Homo sapiens: one gene and its partners. The protein of the gene in region 2 interacts with the protein of the main gene of each other region in a pairwise test. Each region holds a gene or a part of one and is shown on either strand. Other genes may lie near its edges. The genes, in order: CCDC57, ZNF648, MTUS2 and HSF2BP.

What was found.
Region 1: the proteins of ZNF648 (region 2) and CCDC57 interact in binary tests that used the Homo sapiens proteins (3 or more experiments, as listed by UniProt).
Region 3: the proteins of ZNF648 (region 2) and MTUS2 interact in binary tests that used the Homo sapiens proteins (3 or more experiments, as listed by UniProt).
Region 4: the proteins of ZNF648 (region 2) and HSF2BP interact in binary tests that used the Homo sapiens proteins (3 or more experiments, as listed by UniProt).

What each region holds. Positions count from the first base shown.
Region 1 is NC_000017.11:82,202,819-82,209,842, forward strand, and holds part of CCDC57 (coiled-coil domain-containing protein 57), read right to left. Parts: intron 6,322-7,024; exon of another isoform or gene 6,314-6,321; coding exon of another isoform or gene 6,254-6,313; intron 5,231-6,253; coding exon of another isoform or gene 5,029-5,230; exon of another isoform or gene 3,515-5,028; coding exon of another isoform or gene 3,463-3,514; intron 1-3,462. UniProt on the Homo sapiens protein: Pleiotropic regulator of centriole duplication, mitosis, and ciliogenesis. Critical interface between centrosome and microtubule-mediated cellular processes. Centriole duplication protein required for recruitment of CEP63, CEP152, and PLK4 to the centrosome.
Region 2 is NC_000001.11:182,058,697-182,066,658, reverse strand, and holds the start of ZNF648 (zinc finger protein 648), read left to right. Parts: upstream 1-4,946; 5' UTR 4,947-5,091; intron 5,092-7,962. UniProt on the Homo sapiens protein: May be involved in transcriptional regulation.
Region 3 is NC_000013.11:29,026,327-29,033,350, forward strand, and holds part of MTUS2 (microtubule-associated tumor suppressor candidate 2), read left to right. Parts: coding exon 1-577; intron 578-7,024. UniProt on the Homo sapiens protein: Binds microtubules. Together with MAPRE1 may target the microtubule depolymerase KIF2C to the plus-end of microtubules. May regulate the dynamics of microtubules at their growing distal tip.
Region 4 is NC_000021.9:43,530,489-43,537,512, reverse strand, and holds part of HSF2BP (heat shock factor 2-binding protein), read left to right. Parts: intron 1-7,024. UniProt on the Homo sapiens protein: Meiotic recombination factor component of recombination bridges involved in meiotic double-strand break repair.

The DNA of each region.
Region 1 (7,024 bases), on a different chromosome or scaffold from region 2:
GGTTTGTCCAGCTATAAGAGCTAGGTTCTATAAAATAGCTTCAACGCAGCACTCTGTCCATTTCACAGCTGAGAAAACTAAGGCTGCTAAGTGGCTACGTGAGGACTGACAGCAGGTCAGTCCCTCAGAACCAATGCCCCTTCCCACCCAACACCCTGCTCCTGGAAGATTCACCACCTGATATGGTTTCGATATTTATCCCTGCCCAAACCTTTGTGGAATTGTAATCCCCAACGGGGGAGCTGGGGCCTGGTGGGAGGTGTTTGGATCATGTGGGCGGACCCCTCGTGGCTTGGTGCCGTCTTTGTGACAGTGAGTTCTGGGGAGATTTGGTCATTTCAAAGTGTGTGGTGACAATGAGTTCTAGTGAGATGTGGCATCTCTCCACCACTCACACTCCCCTCTTGCTTCGTGCCTGCTCCTCTTTCACCTTCCGCCATGAGTAAAAGTTTCCTGAGGCCTCCCCAGAAGCGGGTGCCAACACTGTGCTTCCTGTACAGCCAGGAGAACCGTGAGCCAATTAATCTTTCTTTATAAATTACCCAGCGTCAGGTATTTCTTTCCAGCAATGTGAGAATGGTCTAATATACCATCCGAGAGTACATTCTTTTGTTCTTTTATTTGTTCATCATGGACTGATATTTTGGTAAAACCATAAAAATAAAGTGCTACAAAAAATAAAATTTAAAAACAAAAATCACAAAAACCAATAAGCTGGGCACAGTAGCTCTCGCCTGCAATCCCAACATTTTCTGAGGCTGAGGTGGGTGGGTCATTCAAACTCAGGAGTTCCACGCTGCAGTGAGTGGTCTATTAAAAGATAAAGTTTCTTCTGGCTGGTCCTAGCTGCCCCCAACCCTTTAGAGGTCCAAGTATGAGCTCGATTTGGACACAGAAATCCCCCACAACTCTTCTCTGGTGTCCACACAGGGGAACTGCATGGCCTAAAAGGGCCACACCCAGTTGGGGGACAAGCACAAACTTCCGGCCTGGTGGGACATGGCCGGGGTGCTGCTGCCAGAGCAGGAAAAAGCCCCAGCCTGTCTTAGGGTACCTCTGTATCTCCGGGCACCTCTGCATCTCGGGGCACAGCAATGGTTGTACAAAGTCCCAACTCCCAGAGGGAGCGGGTACAAGGGCACAGCCAGGCTGAGCACCGGCTGTGACGAAGCACAAGGAGGAGGTGGGTAAGGGGCTGCAAGACCCGTGGGCCCCTCCAGAAAGGGCTGGTCAGCAGGGCACACCCGCTGGGGGCACGAGGGCTCCCTGGGGGTCCTGAGACGGCGCTTCTCTGACGAGGCTCTGGAGCAAAGACGGTCTCCTCCATCCCACATGCTTCCTGCGATGCAACCCCCGCGCCCAGCACCCTAGGACCATCACGCCACCTGGACCACCTCAGCCTGGCTCCTCCAAGCTGCTGCGTGCCCACCCATTGCCGGAGCTAACAGGGTCCCTACCGACCATCTCAGCACTCTCCCACGCTCCTGTTCCTCGTCTCCCTCAGCTCCTACAACGGCCCCACCGTCCACCCCGTGTAATGATCCTTGACCTCTTGCTGTCTCCCACCTTGTGCCCACACCTCGGCCACCACAGTGTCTTACCACAAGAGACCTCAACTGGCCTCTGCTGTGCACTCCCACTTTTTTGGCTGCCAAAGGAATCTTTTCAAAAATGCTTTACCAGGGCCGGGCGCAGTGGCTCATGCCTGTAATCCCAGGACTTTGGGAGGCCGAGGCGGGCGGATCATAAGGTCAGGAGATTGAGACCATCCTGGCTAACACGGTGAAACCCCGTCTCTACTAAAAATACAAAAAATTAGCTGGGCGTGGTGGTGGGCGCCTGTAGTCCCAGCTACTTGGGAGGCTGAGGCAGGAGAATGGCGTGAACCCCGGAGGCGAAGCTTGCAGTGAGCTGAGATCGCACCACTGCAGTCCGGCCTGGGCAACAAAGAGAGACTCCATCTCAAGAAAAAAAAAAGGCTTAACCAGGCTTCCCATTCCACTGAGGACATCTGGACCCCAGGCTCCTGCCTGTCGCTGCCACGTGCCCTCAGAGCCTGGGATGTGTGGCAGGTGCCGCTCTGTCTGCAAGGTTCCTCCTAACCGCAGGGCAGGCTCCTCCTGCCAGTGGGACCTCAACCTGAACATCACTGCAGGGAAGCTTTCCTAACTTCCATCTCACGTTGGCACAACGCCATCACCCCAGTGTCGGGTGTAGTGAGTCCCACTGTCTGGCACAGTCTTGGCGACTGAAACATTTTGTACACAGAGGACATGCACACACCTGTGCACACACCTGTGCACACACAGGGAAAGAATTGGACTATCAGCAAATACACATTAAATGATGGAACACCACTGTGATCTCTGATGACTCAGAACCCTTCACACAGTGCCCGTGAGTCATGACAACGGTTCTCTGCAGAGCCTGAGGTCTGCGAGGTCTACGGGCCTCTTCTCTGAGGGACTGCTGTGGCCCCCGTCCTGTACCAGCTGCCCTGCCACTGGGCTTGCCTCCTTAACTCATTGGTCGCAGCCACCCATGGGGGTTGCCGTTCTGAGAATCTGATCATGCAATCTTATCTGGCCTCAAATGTGCCCGCGACTCCTGACCATTTTCAAAATAAAGTCCGATCTCCTTGGCACAGCGTATGAAGACAGACCGAGGACACGGCCCAGCCTGCGTGGCTCCAGCTGCTCCCTGCAGGCCCAGAGCAGCCTTTATCTGCCAGTTCCTGTGCACGTGCTACTCCAGGTCCCCATGCCCCCATCTCCCCACTGGGTGAGGTTCCTTCCCACCAGGTCTCAGGACTCAGCGGGTCACCCTGTTTTCAAAAGCTTCAGGCAGCCAGGACAGGCAGATGGCACGTACCACCCCCTCTATGTGAGATGGGTGCTCCCAGGCCTCTGTGCTCTGCACAGAAGAGCAGCCTGAAAAATCCATACAGCAAGTGACTCGGTGCAGCACCCGGTGAGAGCCCAGCATCTCCAGCGCTTTATCCATCACACTCAGGACCCATAAGAAGCCCCACACACCAAGGGCCTGTAAGTCAGCCGGGCTCGGCTCGCCTTTCCTTCTGACCTCATCATAGAACGGCCTGCTCTGTTTCTGTACAAATCCCATCTCGGGATGATCCCCAAAGCCCCAAGGCTGAGATTAATTGGCTTTCAAAAGCACGGACTCAGCATCTGGACGCAATCTGCCTGTCGGCCAGCAGGCGTCCCCAGCAAGCACCTGGTTTCAAGAAGGACCATGAAGCTTCCGGGTTGGGGAGCGGCAGGAGAAGCCGCCGGGGAGGGAAGGCCTCGCTGTGCGTTCACCCTCTTTCAGGAGAACCAGTGGGGCTCCCTGAACCAGCCAGCTCCCAGCAGGGGCTGGAACAGCATGGGTGGGCATCCCATCACTTTGATTTTCTCATTTTAAAAATACTGAGCTGAGCTAACGGTGATGTTGTAGGTTTACCTGTTGTGGTACAATGACACATCATGGTTTTCTTGCACAGTTCCTGGCTCATAACTCTCACACGTCACAGTCTTTTGTTGCAATGTTGGGCGTGTCAGGCCTCAGGAAACAGAATCCTTCCAGGTCTCCACTCTCACCTGACTTTCCATTGTAGGTCATAAGATCCTCCCCAGAGCTCCCACCCTCTACCCTGGGGGAAGGAATGCTGACTTCAGGAAGCCTCCCTAAACACCCAAGAGGACAGGGTGTGGAGAGGTTCCTGGGGAGTGGTGGGTGGGGTGTGGGGGGGTCCTCCAGGAAGCCTCTTCCCCCATATCTCCCCTTACGCATCTCCTCATCTGTATCCTCTGTAATACCCTTTATAATAAACTGTTACACGTATGTGTTTCCCTGGGTTCTGTGAGTCACCCCAGCAAATCAATCGAACCCAAAGAGGGGGCTGTGGGAACCCCAACTTGAAGCCAGTGGTCAGTCAGAAGTTCCGGAGGCCAGGACTCGCGACTGGTGTCAGAAGCGGGCAGTCTTTGAACCACCATTGCAAAATTATAACTCAGACAGTGAAAGAGATCTGACCTAACCAATTCCATCGTGCTTCTAACCTCCAAGCTCTCCTTGTTCATTCCTGGGTGTAGGCCGAACTAAGTTTAGGAGGAACTTAGTTTATAGTTTGAAACAAAGACAGTAACAGCCCTTTCCCGAAACAAACCCCCTTTTTGCCTGGGGACTAGACTGCCTTTGTAGGACTAACAAATTAGCCAAAAGATTAGAAATTATGGTTTAGGGCCAGGTGCAGTGACTGGCCCCGGTTGTCCCAGCACTTTGGGAGGCTGAGGCTGGATCACTTGAGCCCAGGAGTTCGAGACCAGCCAGGGCCACACGGCAAAACGCTGCCTCTACCAAAAATACAAAAATTAACTGGGGCGTCGCTTGTAGTCTCAGCTACCAGGCAGGCTGAGGTGGGAGGATCGCTTGAGCTTACGACGTTGAGGCTGCAGTGAGCTGTGATTGCACCACTGCACTCCAGCCTAGGTGACAGAGTGAGACCCTGTCTCAAAAATAAAAAAAAAAAAACAAAAAAGAAATTATGGTTTAGGAGTCATGCAGCTACAGGCTACAAGATTCTGACCTTCCCCAAATTGTTCCTGGGGTAACATCACTATTGTAAAACCTAAGATCAATCAGTGCTTGAGATATTTTGCAGACCCTGCACTCCATGGATCAGCTGGCACCCCCGGATTGATAAACTGGCTCATCCGATCTTGTGGCCCCCACCCAGGAACTGACTCGGCGCAAAAGGACACCTTCGACTCCCTACGCTTTCATCTCCAACTCACTGGCCCCCTACACACTAAGTTATCCTTAAAAACTCTGATCCCCGAATGCTTGGGGAGACTGATTTGAGTCATAATAGAACTCCGTTCTCCCGCACAGCCGGCTCTGTGTGACTTACTCTTTCTCTATCCTAATTCCCGTCTTGGTGAATCGGCTCTGCCTGGGCAGCAGGCGGGGTGGACCTGTTGGGTGTTTATGTCTTGGGTGTTTATGTCTTGGGGACTGAGCCCTCACCCTGTGGTCTGACCTCTCTCCAGGCAGGCGGTGTTGGAACTGAACCGAAGGACACCCGCCGAGTCTGCGGCAGAACTGACTGCTCATGTGCTGGTGAAAACCTCCCTCTCCCACCACATTTGATCACAGAAGTCTTCCTCTGTGCTGATGATTCTTGTGGTATCAGAGTAGAGGAAAAACAGTTTGAGTTTTCCAGAAATACCTGTGAATAAAATACACATAAAATAAAATCTACTAAAAATACACAGAGAAGGGGTTTCTCCATGTTGGTCAGGCTGGTCTGGAACTCCCAAACTCAGGTGATCCACCTGCCTCGGCCTCCCAAAGGGCCGGGCGCAGGTGTGAGCCACTGCGCCCAGCCCAAATATATATATTTTTATGACCTCCATGTATAAATATATTTAATACCCTTAACTTATTATTATTATTTTAGACAGTCTTGTTTTCTTGCCCAGGCTGGAATGCAGTGGCGCGATCTTGGCTCACTGCAACCTCTACCTCCTGGGTTCAAGCTATTTTCCTGCCTCAGCCTCCCAAGTAGCTGGGATTACAGGCGCCCGCCACCATGCCCGGCTAATTTTTGTACTTTTAGTAGAGATGGGGTTTCACCATCTTGGCCAGGCTGGTCTTGAACTCCTGACCTCGTGATTCACCCGCCTCGGCCTCCCGAAGTGCTGGGATTACAGGCGTGAGCCACCGTGCCTGGCCTAATACCCTTAACTTATAAGACACTTCCTGGGACTGGAAGGCAGGTCTGGGGTGGCTCATTCACTTTGTACTCAGGACAGAGGACTCAATCTCAGCATCCTGAGTAGCTGGGACTACAGGCAGGCACCACCATGCCCAGTTAATTTTTTTTTTAAATTTCTTGTAGAGATGGGGTTCCACTATATTGTCCAGCCTGGTCTTGAACTCCTGGCCTCAAATGATCCTCTCACCTTTAAATGTACTGAATTTAGCTCTTGTGGCCCCTCTTGGATTCCAGAGAGTGCTGCTAAGCCCTCTGGGAGGCCAAATTCAGTAATCTACTCTTTTGTTTTGAAACAGAGTCTCAGTCTGTCACCCAGGATGGAGTGCAGTGGCACAATCACAGCTCACTGCAGCCTCGAATGCCCATCTAAAAGCTACAGCTCAAGCGATCTTCCCACGTACTTATAGGTGTGAACCACTGCACCCAGCCTCTCATCTACTCTTTAAATAGGTCCAGGGGACAAAAATTATGTACCTGTGACCCCGTGTTTTTTTTCACTTCCTCCACTGACTGCCGAAGAGTAGCCACAGCCATTTCTAAAACTGAAATAAGAGAGATGGGCAGTAGGTCTGAATTCTGTCAGTGGCACTTGCTGGAGAAGAGGGGCACCACTACCACGAAGGAACATGAAGGGCTGTTTTCTTTGAACGTGCATTTGCCAAAAAAAAGTGAGTAAGTGAGAAATAGAAGTTGAAGTCGAAGTCTTGTAGTTGAGTTTAGACTTTGCGGACTTTTAGAACCACGTATACATGTTTCATGTGCCAAAAACAAAGCACAACAAAAAACAAAAAAACTTAAAATCAGTAAGGACTCAAAATGAAGTAGAAACAGGTGAACCTAACTTGATTACAAGTGCGTAACTTGTAATAAACTCACAGGTTTTTTTGGTGTTTGTTGTTTGTTGAGATGGGATCTCACTCTGTCACCCGAGCTGCAGTGCAGTGGCATGATTATAGCTCACTGCAGCCTCAAACTCCTGAGCTCAGATGGTCCTCCTACCTCAGCCTCCAGAGTAGCTGGGACTCAGACACACGCCACCATGGCTGGCTAATTTATTTTGTAATTTTTTATAGAGATGGGTGTCTCACTTTGTTGGCCAGGCTGGTTTCCAACTCCTCACCTCAAGCGATTTTCCCCCCTCAGCTTCCCAAAGTGGTGGGACTACAGGCGTGAGCCACTGTACCCAGCCAGTTTTTAATATATACAGAGACACAGATATACTGAAATAGATTTGCATGTGTATAG
Region 2 (7,962 bases):
ATCATCAAACAAACAGAAATGGGATTAAAGCCAGGCCTTTCTGACTCAAGGTTGTGTACTGAGTTCCTGTCCAATTCTGCTTTCTGCATGTGTATTCATACTCAGCAAAGTTTGATGCCTGCATGAAAAACAATATTTAAAGTCTCCACCATGTATTGGCCACTTAACTGCCTCTATCACTCCTCCTCAAGGATGATGAAGGGCTGGGGCAAGAAGAAGATTAGATAGTATACCTCACCAACCATTCACACTGTTTGGAAGCAGCTCAGGCAGATTGCTGTGATGACAGCTGGCAGCAGAGCATGGGGAAGAACATAGGCCAGTGTGGCTCATGTTCCACCACGTCACTCCACTCCACCCATCCAGTCCATGTCATTGATAGGCACAAATGAGCTCCTGCACCATGCCCATCAAATGCCCTTCTCTCTCCCAGATGCCTTGTGTTACTCCTTCAGTCTCTGCTTTTTCCTCTTCCCAGACAGGCGGGCAGACCCTTGTTTTCACTACTGCCAGTCAGCAGCTCAGAGGAATTGCCAGATTTTAGAGGCAGACTTGCAAATAATAACCAATACATAAAAGAACACCTACTTTGTTTCCATGCTTAAGGAACTGGGCAGAATGACACAGATTTCAGAAGTTCCTAAAAGCAGGAAAAGGATGTGGCCTTAGGGAAAGGGCCTTCCGCTCTCCATTTCTAGTGGTCCTTACAGTGAGTGTTGGAAAGATTAAATGAGACAGTAAATGTGCTTGTGCTGTCAAAAGGGAAACACACCCAGGAAACAAAAGGGATTCCTGTCCCTTGGAGTCTGAGCAATAGGTTGACCAGTGGGATAGGCAAGACCTGGGATTCAGATCTGAGGCCTGATCTGCACCCACTATGTGCCACTCATTAGGATAGTGAAGTCTCACATAGATAAAGGCACATGGCACTTCCAAACAGCGTTCTTAAGATGGCTTGGAGGATGTATCAGGGTAGGTGACTCAGGGAGATAAGGGGCTTGTGTACACCTTGTCTCTTGATGTAGCCTCCAGGCCAGTCCTGGTCCCATTCACCACTAGGTGGACTATCCCATACCAGTGAGATGGCAACACCAGTGTGTCTTGAAAACCAAGGAGGACTCACGTGGACAATTTAACGTGGAAGTCCCAAGGTGTCTGCTAATTACTCGGTTGTTACGGTTTCTAGAAATAAAGCATGATGGAAAACAGGCTGTCCAGGCTGAATGAGGAATAGGTGATGAGACTGTGCAGGCACTTAGTGGGAACCATCTCTCTGGGCAGCAAGGCTGAGGGAGAAGAATGCCTTCTGGGGGAATGACTATAGTGACCACAGATACACAGGTCACATAGCCTTGGGGAGGAGGGACTAAGACTTTCCAGGAGGAAATAAGGGTAGAGTCAAGCAAAGGCCAAGCATGCAGGCTCTGAGGGACAGTGTTTGGGAATCTAATGTGGTAGTGGTTAAGAGTGCAGACTCTGATACCTTGGCTCAAATTGCAGCTCCACTATGTAGGAACTGTGTGGCTGTGGCCCTTAAGCTGCCTATGGCTCTGTATCCTCCATCTGTAAATGCAGGTAACACTAGTAGTAGCTGCTTCGTTAGGATGTGATGAAGATTAATTGGGGCATTGTGTGTGGCATGCTAGCATAGTGTTAGCACTAGTAACTGCTCAATAAATGTACCATTGCTGTGAGGCTGGGAATGGGAGGGACATACACACACACACTCATCCCAGCTCCAACTTTCATCTCCACAGGCTCCTTCACAATCAGTGAAGAATTAGGTACTTTCTTGCCAAAGATAGCTGAAGCTCAAAGCCCGTACCATATGGACACTTGGGATATTTTGAGCAACCATGTTGGGATGCGGGCTAGTGGCAGCACCAACTGATAACGTGGCTATGGGAGCTATTTTAAGTGTTCACCTACTCTCCCCATCCCATGCTCTCCCCAAATGCCAATGGTTCTCAACATTTTTTGGATCATGGCCCCTTCAAGAAATGGATGGCTACCAAGGATCCTCTTGTCAGAACAGCACATGTCCCCATATCTGCCACATTCTGCACTTTATTTCAGAGGCTCTATGGACTTCAGAATTTGAACCCTATTCCAGATATTCAGACTCAGAGACCTAGAGGTATGTCTCTGCTGCCTGCCTCTTTCCTCTGAAACCATGCCTTAAAAACACCAAGGGGACATTGAAACCTGCTTTTCTGGATCACATTCTGAAAACTGCTGTTCAGAAGAGTTGCAGCTTCAACAGGGCCACAGGGATATAAAAGCAGCCCTGGAATGATGTCTTCCCTAAAAACAACAAAATCATCAATAATGAATAGGAAGAACCAATATTGTGAAAATGGCCATACTGCCCAAAGCAATTTATAGATTCAGTGCTATTCCCATTAAACTACCACTGACATTCTTCACAGAATTAGAAAAAACTATTTTAAAATTCATATAGAACCAAACAAGAGCTTGTAGAGCCAAGACAATCCTAAGCAAAAATAACAAAGCTAGAGGCATCATGCTACCCAACTTCAAACTATACTACAAGGCTACAGTAACCAAAACAGCATGGTATGCTACAAAAACAGGCACATAGACCAATGAAACAGAAAGAGAACTTAGAAATAAAACCACACATCTACAACCATCTGATCTTCCGAAAACCTGACAAAAACAAGCAATGGGGAAGGGATTCCCTATTTAATAAATGGTGCCAGGAGAACTGGCTAGCCATATGCACAAAATTGAAACTGGCCCCTTCCTTACACCTTACACAAAAATTAACACTAGATGAATTAAAGACTTAAACGTAAAACCAAAAACTATAAAAACCCTAGAAGAAAATCTAGGCAATAACATTCAGGACATAGGCATAGGAAAAGATTTTATGAAATTGCCAAAAGCAATTGCAACAAAAGCAAAAATTGACAAATGGGATCGAATTAAACTAATGAGCTTCTGCACAGCAAAAGAAACTATCATCAGAGTGAACAGACAACCTATAGAATGGGAGAAAATGTTTTCAATCTATCCATCTGACAAAGGTCTAATATCCAGAATCTACAAGGAACTTAAGCAAATTTACGAAACCCCCCACAAACAACCCCATTAAAAAGTGGGCAAAGAATGTGAATAGACACTTCTCAAAAGAAGACATACATGCAGCCAACAAATACATGAAAAAAGAGCTCAACATTACTGATCATTAGAGAAATGCAAATTAAAACCACAATGAGATACCATCTCATGCCAGTCAGAATGGCGATTATCAAAAAGTCAAGAAACAACAGATGCTGGCGAGGTTGCGAAGAAATAGCAACGTTTTTACGCTGTTGGTGGGAATGTAAATTAGTTCAACCATTGTGGAAGACAGTATAGCGATTCCTCAAAGATTTAGAACCAGAAATACCATTTGATCCACAATCCCATTACTGGGAATATACCCAAAGGAATATAAATAATTCTATTATAAAGATACATGCATGCATATGTTCAATGCCGCACTATTCACAATAGCAGACTTGGAATCAACCCAAATGCCCATCAATGATAGACTGGATAAAGAAAATGTGGTATATATACACCATGGAATACCATGCAGCCATAAAAAGGAACAGGATCATATCCTTTGCAGGGACAGGGATGGAGCTGGAGGCATTATCCTCAGCAAACTGGCAAAGGAACAGAAAACCAAACACCGCATGTTCTCACTTATAAATGGGAGCTGAACAGTGAGAACACATGGACACAGGGAGGGGAACAACACATATTGGGGCCAGTTGGGGGAGTGCGGGGTGGAGAGAGCATCAGGAAAAATAGCTAATGCATGCCGGGCTTAATACCTAGGTGAAGGAAGGGTTGATAGGTGCAGCAAACCAGCATGGCACATGTTTACCTATGTAACAAACCTGCATATCCTGCACATGTATCCCGGAACTTAAAATTTTTAAAAATCGTCAATAATAACAATGAAAGCAGCTAACGTTTTTGGGTACTTGCTATGTTCCAAACACCGAACTAAGCTCCTTACATGCATTATCTCATTTAATACTCCCCAAACTTCCATGATGGCAATAGTATCCTGGTCCCTGTTTTGCAGATGAGACACTAAGGCACACAGAGGTTAAATAACTTGCCCAAGATCACACAGCTAGTAAGTAGTAAGATTCAAACCCAGACCCAGACCGTGCTGTCAATCAGTATACTTTGTGACCACCTAGTGACATCACAGGAACCACACTTCCATCACCTATTTTAATGCCCTGAATGTTCATCCTAATAAATGCACATTAGACTTGAGTGGGTAAAAATTCTGAATGTACTGAGTCTTCTACCTTGGGCCAATCCTTCTCTTCAAAATGAACCTGCATGGGAATCAATGCTGAAAGTGGAAAGAGACCCCAGACAGGCCTGGCATCTGTATGCATAAGACAGAAAACCATCTCCCTGCACCCCTACTCCCAGTTAAAAGGCTGTGGGCATCTTTGAGCCAATGAATGGGCTGCTACAAAGAATTCTGGGAATCCCAACCCCTCACAGTTCTGCAACTCACAGTCCTGCAAAAGGTGGGTACTAGAATAGGGAGGTGGGCATATAGGCCAAATACTCTGTTCTGCCTTCCAGGAGGGAAAAAGCATGCTACCCAGGAAGCTCACAAGTGACATGTGGCCCATGGGCATACCAGGGCTAAAGTGAAGGATGGACTGCTCTGTGGAAGGAAGGAGTGAAAGTGAACAAGAGGCATAGGGCCACCTGCAGGAAGACTGAGAGGAGGGAAGGAGGAAGGCTGGCTTTGGCAGGGAGGGGAGGCAGGAGCAGAGGGAGCCAGAGGATCGGTTCAGGCAGTGAGAGAGGGCAGCCCCACTCTATTTCCCAGGCTGCTCTCTGGATGCAGGCAGGAAGGTTGAGTGTATTACACTGGCCCCACCTCCAGAGGCTCTCTCTGCAGCCGCTGGACTGGACACAAAGCGTGAGAGACAGAGACACCATCTCTGCTGATTTGTACCTAACTGGTTCCTGTTGCTGAGAGCCCACGTGTCACAGAAGCCAGGGCAGAGGCCCCACACTGCTGTCTGCATTTCCCAGGTAAGCAACCGTCTGTGTGTGAGCCAGGAGTGGAGAGCAAGGCCTGAAGGCGGTGAGCAGAGAAGAAAGTAGGAGGCGGCTGCCTAGGATGGACTTCAGTACAATCTGGAAAGAATGAAGGAAAGAAGAGGGGTATGGGCTGGGGTTGCAACAAGCCCTTAGGGTAGGCTTCTGCAGAGTGTTGATGGATGTATGAGGTTGGGGAGTCAAAGGCTGCATTTGGTCCACTCTTGGCTGGCAAGTGCAGAGGAAGTTCCAGCAAAGGACTGCTCTGACAGCCTCTGGGGACTAGCACATCTGGGGAGCAGAGAGGCCCGCCATACCATGGCATCAGTGTTCCTCTTTCAGACCAGGTATATTTGTGCAGACTTTGCCAGAAAATCCCTCCCTGTGCCCCTGCCTGCCTCCAGGTCTTCCTGGTGGTCGAGAGCATGCGTGTGGCAGCGACAGGAGGAAGAAAGCAGGACATATTCACTGGGGATATGGCTTCAGATGGAGGAGGGATACCTCATCTGAAAAGAGAGTCTCCTGACGGGCTCTGGAGAGGAGATTGGTTAGCTAGTGGAGGGCTGTGTGCCACCCTAAGGAGGCTCCCCTGTGGCCCAGAGGAAAAGAATGACACACAGACTGTGGAAAATGGGGTATTTGTGCTGGAGGTGGGGTGGGGAGCGGGTAAAGTCAGTGATCTGTGAACAGTGCCACAGAAACAGGCAGTATGTTGTCGTAAAGAGGGAAAGAGACCTAAGACATGTGTTTCATACAAATCCAGCATCCCTTTGCTGTCCCTGCTGGGGGACCTACAGCCCCGGATCAAGCCTGCTGGTCTGAGCAAGTTCTATGAGGTTGGCTAGTGGTATGTCCCCTCTATGAACTACACATTCACTCCCTAAGATCCACTATGCTGAAAATATGTCAGATCTGGGCTCCTGTCAAAAGGCATGCCAGCTACCCTCTGCCATGTGATGGGTGAGGGAAGCAGTGAGAGAAGAGGAGTGGTCCCTGGGCTTTAGGGCACAAAGAGACGTGAGATGCTGAATTCCAGTCACAACTGCAATGTGTCCTCCCTCCATCCATGGCTTCTGTATCCAGAGCAGAAAGTGAGGATTCCTCCATACTGCTCCCTCTTCATACACACAGGGTAACTGGGCTCATGATCAGGCAGAAACCAGGGAAGAACAGTTTAATGAGATGGGGATAGGGTTAACTGTACCAGCCAAATACAAAGATCACTCCTTTTATCCAGTCTGAGATGGCAGTGAAAGGTGGGCAGAGGTAGAGAGAAGGAGCTTTCAGAAGGTAAATACTCAGTGACTAATACTCTTGAGCACCACAGGCAGTGGCCTCTGCAACATGGGTCCTGGCTCTGATGGGCAGCCACTGGCCTCTCTCTTTGGCGGAGGGCAATCTGGGTCAATGAAAGCAGGGAGGAGCCCAGCAGTGAGGCCCTGTAGCCAAGGTTCCTTGGCCCAGAAAACACAAGGGGCTTTGATGCCTGCAGAAAGCCACGGCTTTTCACCCCAGGATGCTGCAGCTGCTCTTGGGCAGAGCCCAGCCCCAGAGCAGGCTTCAGTCTGAAGGCCACAGCTGGGAGGCAGGACCATTTGGGGCTTAATGGCCTTAAAATTAGAGAGAAACCCCACTGCTGCTGTCTATGAGCTGTGTGGCCTTGGGCAGGTAAGTAACCTCAATAAAGCTCAGTTTCCTGGTCTGTAAAATTGAAAGAATAATATAGTAATAATAGCATCTATCTTTTTTTTTTTTTTTGAGATGTAGTCTCGCTCTGTCACCCAGGCTGGAGTGCAGTGGCGCGATCTCAGCTCACTGCAAGCTCCGCCACCATGCCCAGCTAATTTTTTTGTATTTTTAGTAGAGACGGGGTTTCACCGTGTTAGCCAGAATGGTCTCAATCTCTTGACCTCATCATCCGTCTGCCTCGGCCTCCCAATAGCATCTATCTTAAAGTTTGCTGAGAGGAATAAATGAAATTATGTTTGTGAAGCACTCAGCATAGTGGCTGGCTCATAACGTGTGCCCAGAAAAATGAGAGTTTTAATACCCCCTCTGGGATTCTCAGAAGTTTCTCTCCAGACTAAAGCAGATTTAGCCCTCTGGTCAACAGTTGTCCCCCTGGAGAGGCCCTCAGTACCCTGCCTCTCTAGTAACTCCTTTAAAATCTGTCACTCATCCAATCCTTGTTAACCAATCCTCCAGCAGGCTTTCTCCATGTCTTCAAGCTAAAATAAAATAAGTTTGAAAATAAAACCCAAATGGCTCTCATGTCTCATGCATTATGTTTGAAATCCTACATCTGGCTTCTTGAGTCAGGAGATGTGTACCCCAGTGGACATCTGTGGTATGCCAGGGGATCAATATGGCACACTTGGGGGAAGATTAAACATTTAAACCCAGGTAACTTTAATACTATTTTCTATAAAACAAATGCGACTGGCAGGGCACAGTGGCTCATGCCTGTAATCCCAGCACTTCGGGAGGCCGAGGCAGGTGGATCACAAGGTCAGGAGTTCAAGACCAGCCTGGCCAAGATGGTGAAACCCTGTATCTACTAAAAATACAAAAATTAGCCGGGCATGGTGGTGGGCACCTGTAATCCCAGCTACTCAAGAGGCTGAGGCAGAGAATCACTTGAACCGGGAGGCAGAGGTTGCAGTGAGCCAAGATCGCGCCACTGCACTCCAGCCTGGGTGACAGAGCGAGACTCCGACTCAATTAAAAACAAAAACAAAAATGAGACATAAAATGTAAACTCTCCTGAATGTTTATGATGAAGCAAAATTTCAAAGACAGGTCAAGCTCTCAGTGGGCATCCTCTGCCCCCGGGTGCTTATGGGTAGCCTTCCTGGCAGTTAGGAG
Region 3 (7,024 bases), on a different chromosome or scaffold from region 2:
CATGACCTACCAGCCTACAACACCCAGTAGCAGTTTTCAGGATGTTAGCGTGTTCGGTATGGATGCGGGGTCCCCCTTGGTAGTTCCACCCCCTACTGATAGTGCACGCTTGTTGAACACGTCCCCCAAAGTGCCTGACAAGAACACTTGCCCCAGTGGGATCCCCAAGCCTGTCTTCACACATTCCAAGGACACACCTTCCTCGCAGGAGGGAATGGAGAACTATCAGGTTGAAAAAACAGAGGAGAGGACAGAAACTAAGCCCATCATTATGCCCAAGCCCAAGCATGTGAGGCCCAAGATCATCACCTACATCAGGAGGAATCCCCAGGCCCTGGGCCAGGTGGACGCCTCGCTGGTTCCAGTGGGGCTTCCATATGCCCCGCCCACATGTACCATGCCTCTTCCCCACGAAGAGAAGGCAGCAGGTGGTGACCTGAAGCCATCTGCCAACCTCTATGAGAAATTCAAGCCAGACCTGCAGAAGCCAAGGGTCTTCAGTTCCGGATTGATGGTGTCTGGAATCAAGCCCCCGGGACATCCTTTCAGTCAAATGAGTGAAAAGTTTTTGCAGGAGGTAAGAGAATGTCATTATGATATGGTCTATAAGTTGACTGTCCCAATATCTGTGACATATTTTCAATGAGTTATGAAAGTAAAATGTCCTCTTTAAGTGAATTACAGATTTTCATGGATACACTTGTGAAGAAATGGAGTTTTTGACTAGAGGAGATTGTCTAGAGAAATGACCATTTTTAACTAGAAGAGTCTGATTATCTTAATAAGATGTACCCAATATCTAAGGAGACCCATTTAAATTTCACTTGCTATAATTCATATGAAATTAGATGAGTATGCCTTAAATAGGCTTCCATGTTTAAATAAGTGAATATAATATAATATAAGCCAGGTTAAAGGAAGAAAGAATGCAAAATTACTGTGTTCTTCAAATAGATCAGACTCATTCCTCAATGGGGAGTATTTTCTACCTGGGAGTATCTCTTATTCGCATGCGTGAAGAACAGCAAATGAGCAGAAAACGGTGTGTTAGGCATGGACTCTTTCTTTAAAATAAAAGTAATAATTACAACTAACATATAATTGAGGGCCAGCTCTACACTGGGCCCATATAATACAGCGTTTGATCTTTGTTAATCTTCACTAATCCTTGCAGTAATTCCCTGAGGGTTGGTATTGCAGTTTTTTGTTTGTTTATGTTTTTTTTGGCTTTTTCTTTGTTTTTGAGATGAAGTCTCGCTCTGTCGCCCAGGCTTGAGTGCAGTGGCGCGATCTCGGCTCACTGGAAACTCCACTTTCTGGGTTCACGCCATCCTCCTGCCTCAGCTTCCCTAGTACCTGGGACTACAGGCGCCCGCCACCGCGCCTGGCTACTTTTTTGTATTTTTAGTAGAGATGGGGTTTCACCGTGGTCTTGATCTCCTGACCTCGTGATCCGCCTACCTCGGCCTCCCAAAGTGCTGGGATTACAGGCGTGAGCCACCGCGCCCAGCCGGTATTGCAGTTTTTATCACCGTATAGATACAGAGACAGACAGAGAGCTTTAAGTCACCCACCACAAAGGAAGGAGAGCTCTGAGAGTCTCACTCAGGCCTGTGCAGTTTCAGACTGCACTGTGCTGTCCTTTTTAGCTATGGTGAGTCATCCTTCGAGACCTCAGAACTAAGATTTGTCTCCTGAAGGAGTCTCTTCATGACAGCTGAGTGATCAGTTAAAAGTAAGGCAGGAGCCAAGGACAGCGGCTCACACCTGTAATCCCAGCATTTGGGAAGCCGAGATGGGCAGATCACAAGGTCAGGAGATCGAGACCATCCTGGCCAACATGGTGAAACCCCGTCTCTACTAAAAATACAAAAACTAGCTGGGTGTGGTGGCATGTGCCTGTAGTCCCAGGAACTGGGGAGGCTGAGGCAGGAGAATTGCTCGAACCCAGGATGTGGAGGTTGCAGTGAGCTGAGACCACGCCACTGCACTTCAGCCTGGCAACAGAGCGCGACTCAGTCTCAAAAACAAGGGCAGGATGAGATCATCCTGTCTCTAACACCTTCCAGGGCTGCCCAGGTTGCTTGGAACACAAGCTGGAGCCTGTAGGATGGCTCTGCCTTTAGGATGGGATGTGCTCACTGGGGGTCCGTCAGCTACCTGCCCTCCTCTCCTTCCACTCTCCCTTTCTCACTCTGCTGCTTCAGGACCTTTGCACCTCCCTCTGCTTGGAATGTTCTCCCAGTTATCCAGATGGCTCTCTCCCTCACTCCCTTTAGGTCTGTGTTCCAATGTTATCTCCTTGGGAAGGCCACCCATCTTCTCTCTGAATCCCTTTTCTCTGATTTATTTCTTCCTAGCACCTACCTCCACCTGCCATAAATACTTTTTTAGTTTTCCTGAATTGACTATAATGTAAACTCCATGAGGGAAGGGATTGTTTTCAATATTTTGTTCCCCGTGTTCCCAGAATTTAGAATGGTGCTTCTTATAAGTATGTGCTCAAAAAATGTTGAGTGATAACTGAATCATGAACTCCATATGTGTTGGAACTAAACAAAAGTGTACCAAGGGTTTCTAGAGATAGGATGATTGAGTCCAAATTTGGACTCTAGCTTGGTTAGATATATTGGCATATTTAAAGAATGCATCAATCACAACAGAAGTTGTCATATCTAGCACAAAGACAAAGTTGAATCCATTCTCGGCAGCAGACATTGACTTAGGCAATCACTGACGAGGTGCCCCAACAAGCCGACCAGCTGTGCTGCCTTGCCGCAGGTCCTTAGCAACCAAATCACACAGCTTGCTCCCTGTGTTCTGACTCTGGGCCTGCCAACAGGCCTCTGATTATAACGGACTTCCTACCTCACATCTCTAGAGAGAGGATTCTGGCTGGAGAATTCAGGGGTCCAGTCAGCTTGGCAGGGGTTTGTCTTGCTGTGCGGGGCTGCATGGCATCTTGTTTATAAGTGGCTTCTTACTCTGTGCCCTGCAATGAGAACGTGTTCTGGCTAGAGGACACTTGAGTCTGGCTTTAGGCAGTGGTCTCCAATTAAAAGTGAACAAATTGCCCTTCTGGATTTTTACGTCAGTCTCTGAGTTTAGTTATAGTGAGTCATTTTCAAATTTCTAAACATTCATCCACCTGGGCCTCTGAGGCTCAGGGTCAGGCTCTGAAGCTTTGCTCTTCTATAAGGCAGGGAATCACTGCAGAGGTTCCATGAAGAGACCTGTCAGTCCATTTGTGTTGCTATGAAAGAATACCTGAGGCTGGGTAAATTATAAGGAAAAGAGGTTTATTTGGCTCATGGTTCTGCAGGCTGGAGAGGAAGCATGGCACCAGCATCTGCCTATGGTGAGGCCTCAGGCTGCTTCCACTCAAGGGGGAAGAAGAAGGGGAACCACGTGTGCATTGATCACGTGGTGAGAGATGAGCAAGAGGGGAGTGGAGGAGGTGCCAGGCCTCTCTTTAAGGACCAGCTCTCATGGGAACTAATAGAGCAAGAACTTGCTCATTACCAAAAGGAGGGCACCAAGCCATTCATGAGGCATCTGCCCCCATGGCCCACACACCTCCCACTAGACCCCACCTCCAACATTGGAGATCACATTTCAACATAAGAGTTGGCACAGACAAGCCAACCATATCCAAACCATAGCCAGAGCCTAGATTTTTCTCTATAAAAACAAACTCATGAGGGAAATTGATTTGGATATGTAGGCCCAAACCCCACATTGTCTGTAATTCTTTCTTTGTGCCCTTCTATATTTTCGTGTATATTTCTTTTCTGTGTTGTTCTGCTTCCTCCAAGAATAGTTTATATATTACATGCATAGTTTTCCCCAAACTATTTTCTCTACTTCATTATCTAGGCACCACGTCAAGACTCAAGGAAATGGGATTGTATGGACATTGTGTGGCTTTGGCGGTTCTGAGGGGTTCAGAGAGACCCCACTGGTGTGGAGAGAGCATCATGGCCTCGCACCTCGAGCATCCCAAAGTCTTCTTCAAAGAATTTATTTGTTTTTGGGCCTCGACTTTACAAGTTCGTTTGAAATGTCAGTTTCCCTCCCTGTATCTGGGGACCATTTTCTGCCATCATCAGAACGAGACCCAGGCCTCTTCTCAGGTTGCGCTGGGCTCATTTCTGTGGTAACCTTCTTTACTCAAAAGTGGGGAACAGGCTGGTCCTTGGCCACCTGCTACAGCTATGACATGATGTAACCCAGCGAGTCCCCCTCTTGTGTTTGAGCTCAGTGCAGGGAGAAAAAACAGCCGACTTCTTCTGCCAGTGTGCCCCAAGCTCATCATGGGGTGGCTGCAGTCTGGTCTCTAGGAAAAGAACACATTTTTGATAATGTGTTGCAATGGAAGTATTTTTCAGTTATAGAAGCCAGATTTTTTTTTAAATAAAATGAGAACCTCTTAAAAATAAAAACTCAAACCAGCTTCAGACTCTTCCATCCTTATCGACAGATCCCTGCTGGTTACATAGCATGGGTAGAAGTGGAAAAATCAAGAGTAAGCACTCTTCTGAGAGAGGAACTCTTTTCCCAATTGGCAGGAACAGCACAGGCATTTAAAACTTCCAGAAGTGGCTTCCAAGATCATCTGGGATCTAGTCATGTCCAGGTATTAAATATGTTTACCTAAACAGGTGCCCTCTGCCACTGGCTCTCCTGAGGTCTCAGGGACACTCCCTCCCTCCAACAACTTGGGAGCCCTTTTTATTTTTGGTAAAGGGAGGTGGGAAGAAAGGGGCTTGGCTGAGAGGATGGAGTGAGGCGATGTGCGTGCAGTGTACAGAGGTGTGATCCAGGGCTGCTCTCCTTCCTCACTGTCTGCTGCCACTCATCTCTGGGGGGCACTGCATCGATTGGGGTTTGCCAGACAAATAGAACTAATAGGTGTGTGTGTGTGTGTGTGTGTGTGTGTGTGTGGTGTGTGTTCACAGGTCTATATTCATCTATACTTATGTCTCTCAATATATATTATCTATATATGTTTCAATATATATATCTCATATGTAGAGACAGATATAGATGTATATATAGAGAGGGTACATCACATAATCTCTATATATATATATAGAGAGAGATTGATTGACTGATTGATTTTAAGAAATTGGCTCATGATTGTAGAGGCTGGCAAGTCAAAAATCTGCAGGGCAGGACAGCAGCCTGGAGACTTAGGGTAGAGTTGGTGCTGCAGCTTGGGTCTGAAGGTGATCTACTAGCAGAATCCCCTTTTCTTTAGGAGGAGTCAGTCTGTTTTTATTAAACCCTGCAACTGATTAGATGAGACTCACCTACATGCTGAAGGGTCTGCTGCTTTATTCAAGGTCTGCTGATTTAAATGTTAATCTAATATAAGAAATACTTTCATGGCAGCATCTAGAATGCTTGACCAAATATCTGGGTATTGCAACCCCACCAAGTTGACACATAAAATTAACCATCCCAGACACCCTTCCCCCACCACTATCCCAGTGGCTTGTTAACAAAGCCTTCACCTGTACCCTCTGTCTCCACGGCACACTATCCCATTGAGGACAGTGCAGGGCAAATAGGAAGAGGGACAGCCTGGTAAGAATGTATTTGTTCATATGCCTTGACTTAACGAGTTTGTTTGAAATCATAGGGTTCTTTTGTTTGCTTTCAAAGTGAGTTCTCTAAAAACCCTCCATTGGGATGGAGGGAGGGGAACAGCAACGTTTGGGGTTTCCAAACGTTGTTTTATGACTGTGCAGCATCACCTGCTGTATTCTGTCAGTAAAGATGAAGGAAAAGAGTATGAAGCTTTCTGTAGATTCCCTTGTTTAATTAAAAATGCACAGACTAGACATCAAAGGCGCAGTTTTCCCCCTTTTAAAGAATTTGCGATCTCACCAGAAACAAATTACCCAACAAAATGACAGGCATTGAAGTTACTGAAATCCTTAAGATCATTGTTGAGAGAGAATGTGGTGAATTTTAATCCCTAAAAACAACTCAGTTTCAAGGCACTGAGTAACTACTAAGATCAGCATATTGCAATCCTAAAACCTGACAGATGTAGTTTGGAAATGATATTAATTTCTTCATAAGAGCACCTGCTCAAAGCAATGTGCAATGGGACCCAAAATTTAGAAACTAAAATTAAAAAAGGGTATATATGAGAAAAACCAGAGATTGATAGTGAGAGTAAGTAGAGAATGGTAAAAAATTTATCAGAGTGCAGATGTAGAATGTTCTTTCATAGGAATATAATTTGCTATAGCCAAGGACTATCTACTATAACAGTCATGCATATTTTACAGTGTGATTATGATAAAACTTTAAAGGCCTAATCTTTTGTTTCTACAATGTCAATTTGAAGGAGGACTTTGTATCTATTTCAACATTAAATGAGTATCAATTTAAGGGTTTATCTCTTCAACAGCTTGGATCAAAGCTTTTATAGCCCCCATTAAAGAATACTGTTAAATGCTTATGATTCCTGAGATATAAGTTTGACACATAAAATGTGCTGTGATTTAGAACAGAGTTAATTAACAGATGTATCTTTTCATGCATGGCCCTTAGCACTATTTTTTATTGTAACTTAAAGGAATAGTTTATTTAGTTCTCTCTCTTTTTTTCCTGTTTAATATTAATAAAACACTGATAATATGAACAGACTTAGTGAGTACAGAATTGCATATATAAAAGGTACTGCCCACAGGTTGTATTCTAGGCCAAACTGCTAGCTACAGGAGAAAGTGACAGTAACGTTATGTTATTATTAAACTTAGGAAAAAATGGAAACATGATTCTTCAATAAATATTTATTGACTTTAGCTATGTGCTAGACATTGTTTTTGGTGCTATGAAGTCAGCGGTTGATGAGATTGTGCCCTAGAACTTCCATTCTGGTGAAACTTGCTCAAACCTTCCTGGGAGCATCGCCTCACTCGAGCAGACGACCAGAGGAGATAACTCAGGCTCAGGTTTTTAACTAGGTAAACACATAGTACAGATCTGAAAATACATTTTCCATTAA
Region 4 (7,024 bases), on a different chromosome or scaffold from region 2:
GACATGGTCCAGAATCCATATGTGCTTTGGAGGTGGCCAGGAAGCCCATAGGAGGAGGGAATGCTCAGTGTGTGCCCTGAGAGCTTTGCCACTGTCAGAAAGCACCTGACAGGAACAAGTTTGATTGTATTTGACACATGCCGGCACTACCACAGAAAGTTTTAGCAACAGATAAGAGGGGACATCTGTACTCTCAACTTCTTTTTTCATACTTCCTATTGAAGTTTTCATCTCTACTCTCAGGCATTTAATTTCTAAGACTGCTGTTTATTTTTAATTGTCTTAAAAAATAGCATCCCATTCTTGTTTAACAGATGATATAGCTTCTTTTACCTCCTTGAGGAAGATATTAATAATAGTTTTTTAAAACTTTTCTTCTCACTGCACAATCTCTTTTCTTTGTCCTCCTTTTGTTCCTGTTTAAAATGATAGCCATTTATCTTTTTCTCAGGTGTCTGGTGATGTGTGGTTGTCTGGTCATGTTTAACAGTGGGATTTATAATGCCGATTGGAAGCTGTGAGCATATGGGTGGAGCTTCTGAACTTTTCTGCAGTGTGAGCTGGTGCATCAATTAATTGGGAACCCATAGGTCAGTATCTTCGACTGTGTTGTCTTGGGTTGTTCAGATTGTCTGGAGAAGACTCACCCACCCTTATTTCTGGAGGGATGAAGGCCTATAAACTCCGGAAACAAAGTAGAGATAGAGGGAATGTCTTAGAGCTTGTAGGTATGTGTTTATCTAATCCACATGTTTTCCAGACAGAACCTCCATCCTCAATTGTGCCTGATGTTTCACCTCCAGAGATTCTTTAGAAAATAAATGTCCAGGCCAGGTGGGGTGGTTCACACCTCTAATCCCAGCACTTTGGGAGGCTGAGGTGGGCGGATCACCTGAGGTCAGGAGTTCGAAACCAGACTGGCCAACATGATGAAACCCCGTCTCTACTAAAAATATAAAAATTAGCTGGGTGTGGTGGCAGGTGCCTGTGATCCCAGCTACTCAGGATGCTGAGGCAGGACAATCACTTGAACTGGGAGGCGGAGGTTGCGGTGAGCTGAGATTACGTCACTACACTCCAGCCTGGGTGACAGAGTGAGACTCTGTCTCACAAAAAAAAAGAAAAGAAAAGAAATGTCCAGTCTCTACTAGGGAAGGGCATTTTTCCAGAGGCAGGGAATAGGGGAGAGGGTCCAGGGATCTAATTTCTTATTATTATTTTTATTTTTTTTTAGTTTTGAGATGCAGTCTTAACTCTGTCGCCCAGGTTGGAGTGCAATGGCGTGATTTCAGCTCACTGCAACCTCTGCCTCTGGGGTTCAAGTGATTCTCCTGCCTCAGCCTCCCAGGTAGCTGGGATTACAGGTGCCTGCCATGACACCTGGCTAATTTTTGTATTTTTAGTAGAGACAGGGTTTCACCATGTTTTTCAGGCTGGTCTCGAACTCCTGACCTTAGGTGATCCACCTACCTTGGCCTCACAAAGTGCTGGGATTACAGGCGTGAGCCACCAAGCCTGGCCTTCTTCTTATTTTTAATATAAAGCCAGATTTGTTGAGTTATAATTTACATAGAACAAAATTCACTTGTTAGTAGACAATTGTATGAGTTGTGACATAAAACTATCTCAGCATATAACTCATATGCTGAGTTATGTGGTAAGTATGTGTTTAAATGTATAGGAAATTGCCAAATTGTTGTCTCAGGTGGTTGTACCATTTTATTTATTTTATTTTATTTTATTTTATTTTATTTTATTATTTTATTTTATTTTATTTTATTTTATTTTATTTTATTTTATTTTATTATTTTATTTTATTTTATTTTATTTTATTTATTTTATTTATTTTTGAGACAGAGTCTCGCTCTATTGCCCAGGCTGGAGTGCAGTGGCACGATCTCGGCTCACTGCAACCTCCACCTCGTGGGTTCAAGTGATTCTCCTGCCTCAGCCTCCCAAGTAGCTAGGATTACAGGCGTGCACCACCACACCCAGCTAATTTTTGTATTTTTAGTAGAGATGGGGTTTCACCATGGAGGCCAGGCTGGTCTCAAGTTCCTGACCTCAGGTGATCTGCCTGCCTCAGCCTCCCAAAGTGTTGGGATTACAGGCGTAAGCCACTGCGCCTGGCCTGGCAGTACCATTTTAAATTTTCACCACTAATCTATGAACATTCCAGTTGTTCCTCATTCTTGTCAACACTTGGTATTTTCAGATTTTTATTTTTTAATTTTAGCCATTCTAATAGGTATGGATTTAATTTCCATTTTTCTAATAGCCATGATGCTGAGCATCTTTTTGTGTGCTTGCCATTTGTGTATCTCCTTTGGTGAAGTGTCTTTTCAAACACTTTCCCTATTTTTATTGGGCTGTTGTGTTACTGAGTTTTCAGAGATGTATGTGTATTCTGGATTTAGGTCCTTTATCAGATACGTGTTTTGCAAATGTTTTGTCCTCATCTAGTGGCTTGTCTTTTCATTGTGACTGTCTTTTGAAGAGCAGATTTTTAAAATTTTGGTGTGGCTAATAAATTATTTAGTTGTATGGATTATGCTTTTGGTTTTGTGTCTAGGAAATTGTTACCTAATTCAAGGTCACAAAGATTTTTCTCCTGTTTTCTTCCAGAAGTTTTAAAATTTGGGGTTTTACATTTAGGTATGTTATTAATTTTTGTATAATTTTTGTATGTTAGGCAAGGTATAGATTGAAGTTCTTTGTTTTTGCATATGGATGTTCAATTTTTCCAGCACCATTTGTTGTAAAGGTTATTCTTTCTTGATTGAATTGAATGTATACCTTTGTTGAGAGTTCACAAAGCTGTGGTCTGTTTTTGGATCCTCTAATTTTATTTCACTTATCTCTTTGTCTGTCGCTCTGTCACTTGACCAGTACCACACTCTTTATGGCCATAAATGTTGAAATCTAGTACTGCAATTCCCCAACATTTCTCTTTCTCTAAATTGTTTTGTCTGGTCTAGTTCCTTTGTTTTTCCAAATAAATTTGAGAATTACTTGTTGATTTCTGCTAAAATTTCAACTTGGATTTTGGTTGGCATTGCATTGATTATATAGATGAATTTGAGGAGATTTGACATTTTAACAATATTGAGTCTTCTAGTCCATAAATATGGCATATTCTCTCCATCTATATGTCTGTGGATCCTTATATCTGTGTTTTGTTGTTTTCAGCATAGAAATCTTGCACATAGTTTCATGAGATTTATACTTAAGTGTTTCATGTTTTGGTGCTATTATATAATATATGGTAATTTTTAAAAAACATTAGATTTTTAATTTTTTGTTATAAGTATGTGGATACAATTGACCTTTGTATGTTGAATTTGTATTCTGTGACTTTGCTAAACTCAATTAGTTCTAATAACTTTTTTTCTAGTTTCTTTGGGATTTTCTGTATAGACAATCATATCATCTGCAAATAGAGACAGTTTCATTTCTGCCTTTCTAATCAATAAACCTTTTATTTCTTTTTCTTGCCTTACTGCACAGGCTAGGATCTCTAGTATGATTTTGAATAGGGGTGATAGGATATTCTTGCCTTGTACGTCATCTTAGGAAAGAAGCATTCAGTCTTCTATCATTAAGTATGATGTTAGCTGTGTGTTTTTTGTAGATGCCCCTAATCTGGTTCAGGATGTTCCTTTTTATTCCTGTTTTGTTGAGGGTTTATTATTATTATTACTGTTATGAACAGATGTTGAATTTTGTCAAAAGGCTTTTCTGCATTTATTGAAGAGATAATTTTTTTTTTCTTCTTTAGTCTGTTGTTACGGTAGGTGATGTTGACTGATTTGCAAATAATGAGCCAGCCTTCCATTCCTAGAATAAGTGTCTATTGGCTGTGAAGTATTATCCTTTTTATATATTGCTGAATGCAATTTGCTATTTTTTTGTTTAGGATTTTCGTGTCTTTGTTTATGAGGGATATTGGTCTGTTCTTTTATTTTAACATCTTTATCTAGTTTTGGTGTCAGTGTAATTCTGGCCTCATAAAAAAAAGTTGACTTATTTCCTCCTTTTCTGTTTTCTGGAAGACTTGTTTAAAATTTCTATTATTTCTGTTCTAATTTTTTGATAGAATTTGACAATGAAGCTCTCTGAAATGTTATACATTGCATGACTGTTTACCTTTAAATAATAATCCGCTGCTTCAGGTATAGTGTAAGTACCTTAAAACAGTGTTTTCCCATCTATTGATCATATTTATTTCAGATTCTTTTTCTGAAATTCCTGTATTATTATTCCAGGTTATCTGTGTGTCTGCTTCTGTTGATTGTCACTTGACAATGAGCCTTTTGTTTCCTTTGCCTTCTTTTGTTTGTTTGTTTGTTTGTTTGTTTGTTTGTTTTTGAGACAGAGTCTCACTTTGTTGCCCAGGCTGGAGTGCAGTGGCGCAATCTCAGCTCACTGCAACCTCTGCTTCCTGGGTTCAAGGGATTCTCCTGCCTCAGCCTCCTGAGTACCTGGGATTACAGGCGTGCGCCACCACACCCAGCTAATTGTTATATTTTTAGTAGAGATGGGGTTTCACTATGTTGGCCAGGCTGTTCTCAAACTCCTGACCTCGTGATCCGCCCGCCTTGGCCTCCCAAAGTGCTGGGATTACAGGTGTGAGCCACTGCGCCTGGCCTCCATTGCCTCTTCATTGTAATTTTTGATTTCAGTGTTGGACATTGTGTGGAGGGCAGTAGGCAAGGTCAAAAAACTTTTTCTGTAATGGGCCAAATAAATATTTTGAGTTTTGAGAGCCACGTGTAGTCCCTGTTGCATGTTATTCTTCTGGTTTTTACTTTTAAAAAATTACCCTTAAAAAATGTAAAACCTGGCAGGCTGCAATGGTTCATGCCTCTAATTCTGGCCCTTTGGGAGACTGAGGTGGAAGGATTGCTTGAGCCCAGGGGTTTGATACCAGCCTGGGCAGTGTGGTGAGACACCGTCTCTACAAAAAAATGTGAAAAATTAACTGGGCGTGGCCACATGTTCTGTGGTCCCTCTTTCTTGGGAGGCCGAGGTGGGAGGATGGCTTGAGCCCAGGAGATTGAGACTGCAGTGAGCCATGATTGTACCAGAGTACTCCAGCCTGGGAGACAGAGCAAGACCCTGTCTCCAAAAGGAGGAGGAGGAGGGGGGGGGGAGGAGGAGGTGGTGGAGGAGGAGAGGAGGGGGGGGGAGGAGGAGGAGGAGGAGGAGGAAAGAAGAAGAAGAAGAAGAAAAAAAAAGTAAAACCATTCTTAGCTTGCAGGCTGTACAGAAACGGGTCATGGGCTACCTTTGGCCTCTGGGCCATGCGTACCCTCTCTGTAGAGGGGAATGAGGTGGGTAGATAGTGTTATATTCAGGAATGGCCACTCCTCTTTTTCCGCTGGGTTTTCATTGTTGGGGAGTTAAGGTGGGTCTGGGTTTTGTTGTTGTGTATGTACCTTCCATCCCACTGGCTTCAAATTCCTCTAACCTTTCCTTGAGCTTAGGATGAGGGCTGAGTTGCCAAAGCGTCTTCACCCATGGCTTTTGGCCTTGCCTCTGTGTCTGCCTTAGCTGCCCCTTATCTTTGGCAGGTCTCTACTAGAGAAAGTTCCCCTCCCTTCCCCCAAAGTAGGAGGACTCTAACAGGCTGGCTTAAGATGGCTCCTGGACCCTCCCTGAGGGCTAGAGCAGATTGCCTTTTATCTTCCCTGGCCACAGCAGTCTTCTGATTCTGTAGGTGAGAAGCTTCTTGTTAGGGCTTAGTGCTGTGGCAGCTCCCACTGAGAGACTGTTCAGTCTGCTCTTTCAGTCTACATCTTAAAAGGTTTTTTTTTAATTTTTTTATTTGTTAAGTAAATGTGCTAAGAAAGAGGTGCTGATTTTGAGCCTGGTTCCAGTTGCAGTACCCAGTCAAGGAGTGAATTTACGGCATCGTAAAGGCTGCCAGTAGAGAGGAATGGTAAGGAAAGTTGGCTCCACTCTGGTGATGGATTGAAGCTTCCAGTGGGTTTGTCTAGCTATTTTTTAGTGGTTGCTACAATGTATGCAAGGCTACCAGATTCTATAAGTCCTGGGGCCATTCCCATGGAAAATAAACAACGTGAATTTTATATACCCAGTGACATTGTGTAAACTCAGTGGCCCTGATAAGTGCTGTATCTGTATGTGGTCCCTGAGGGATTTGCTGCAATTGGAGTGAAAAAGAAGTAATACTTTTTAAAACAATCTTATAAGTGGACAGAATGCTACTGTCGACAAAGAGTCAAACTCTGCAAAATATTTGAAGAGATTTGTTCTGAGCCAAATATGAGTGAGGTCCTGAGAACATGTGCCCAAGGTAGTTGGGTGCGGCTTGGCTTTATACATTTTAGAGAGGTGTGAGACATCAATCAAAAACATTTAAGAAATACATTGGTTTGGTCCAGAAAAGTGGGACAAAGCTGGGGGGCGTGGGGCTTCCAGGCTATAGGTGAATTTAAACATTTTCTGATTGATAAAGACCTGGGATTGATAGAAAGGGAATGTTCAGGTTAAGGTAAAGATTGTGGACATCCAAGTTCTTTTGAAGTCTTATGGTGGCTGCCTTAGAGACAATAGATGACAGATGTTTCCTATTCAGATCTTAGTTAATCTCTTTAGGATTAGGAGGGTCTCGAAGAAAAAGATCTAGCTATGTTAGTAGAGATTCTTTACAAATGCAGATTTTCCCCCACAAAGAACAGCTTTGCAGGGCCATTTCAAAATATGGCAAAGAAACATATTTTGGGGTAAAGTATTTTTATTTTCTTTCTTGTCTCATAATGTTATGCCAGAGTCAGGTTGGAAAGTCATGATATATAGGGTTAAATAAAACCCATCTGATGAGAATTTGTGATTTGTAGGACATGACTCCCCAGACCCCTTAGATAGGAATTTGGGCAAGATAAAAAAAATCAGAGTTTAGTCCTCACTAGCAAACAGAGAAAGCCCTCATCTTTCTAGTTTAACACTTTAAAATTGTATGACTGTAATATTTGAAGATGATGGTTATTAGACTATTGAG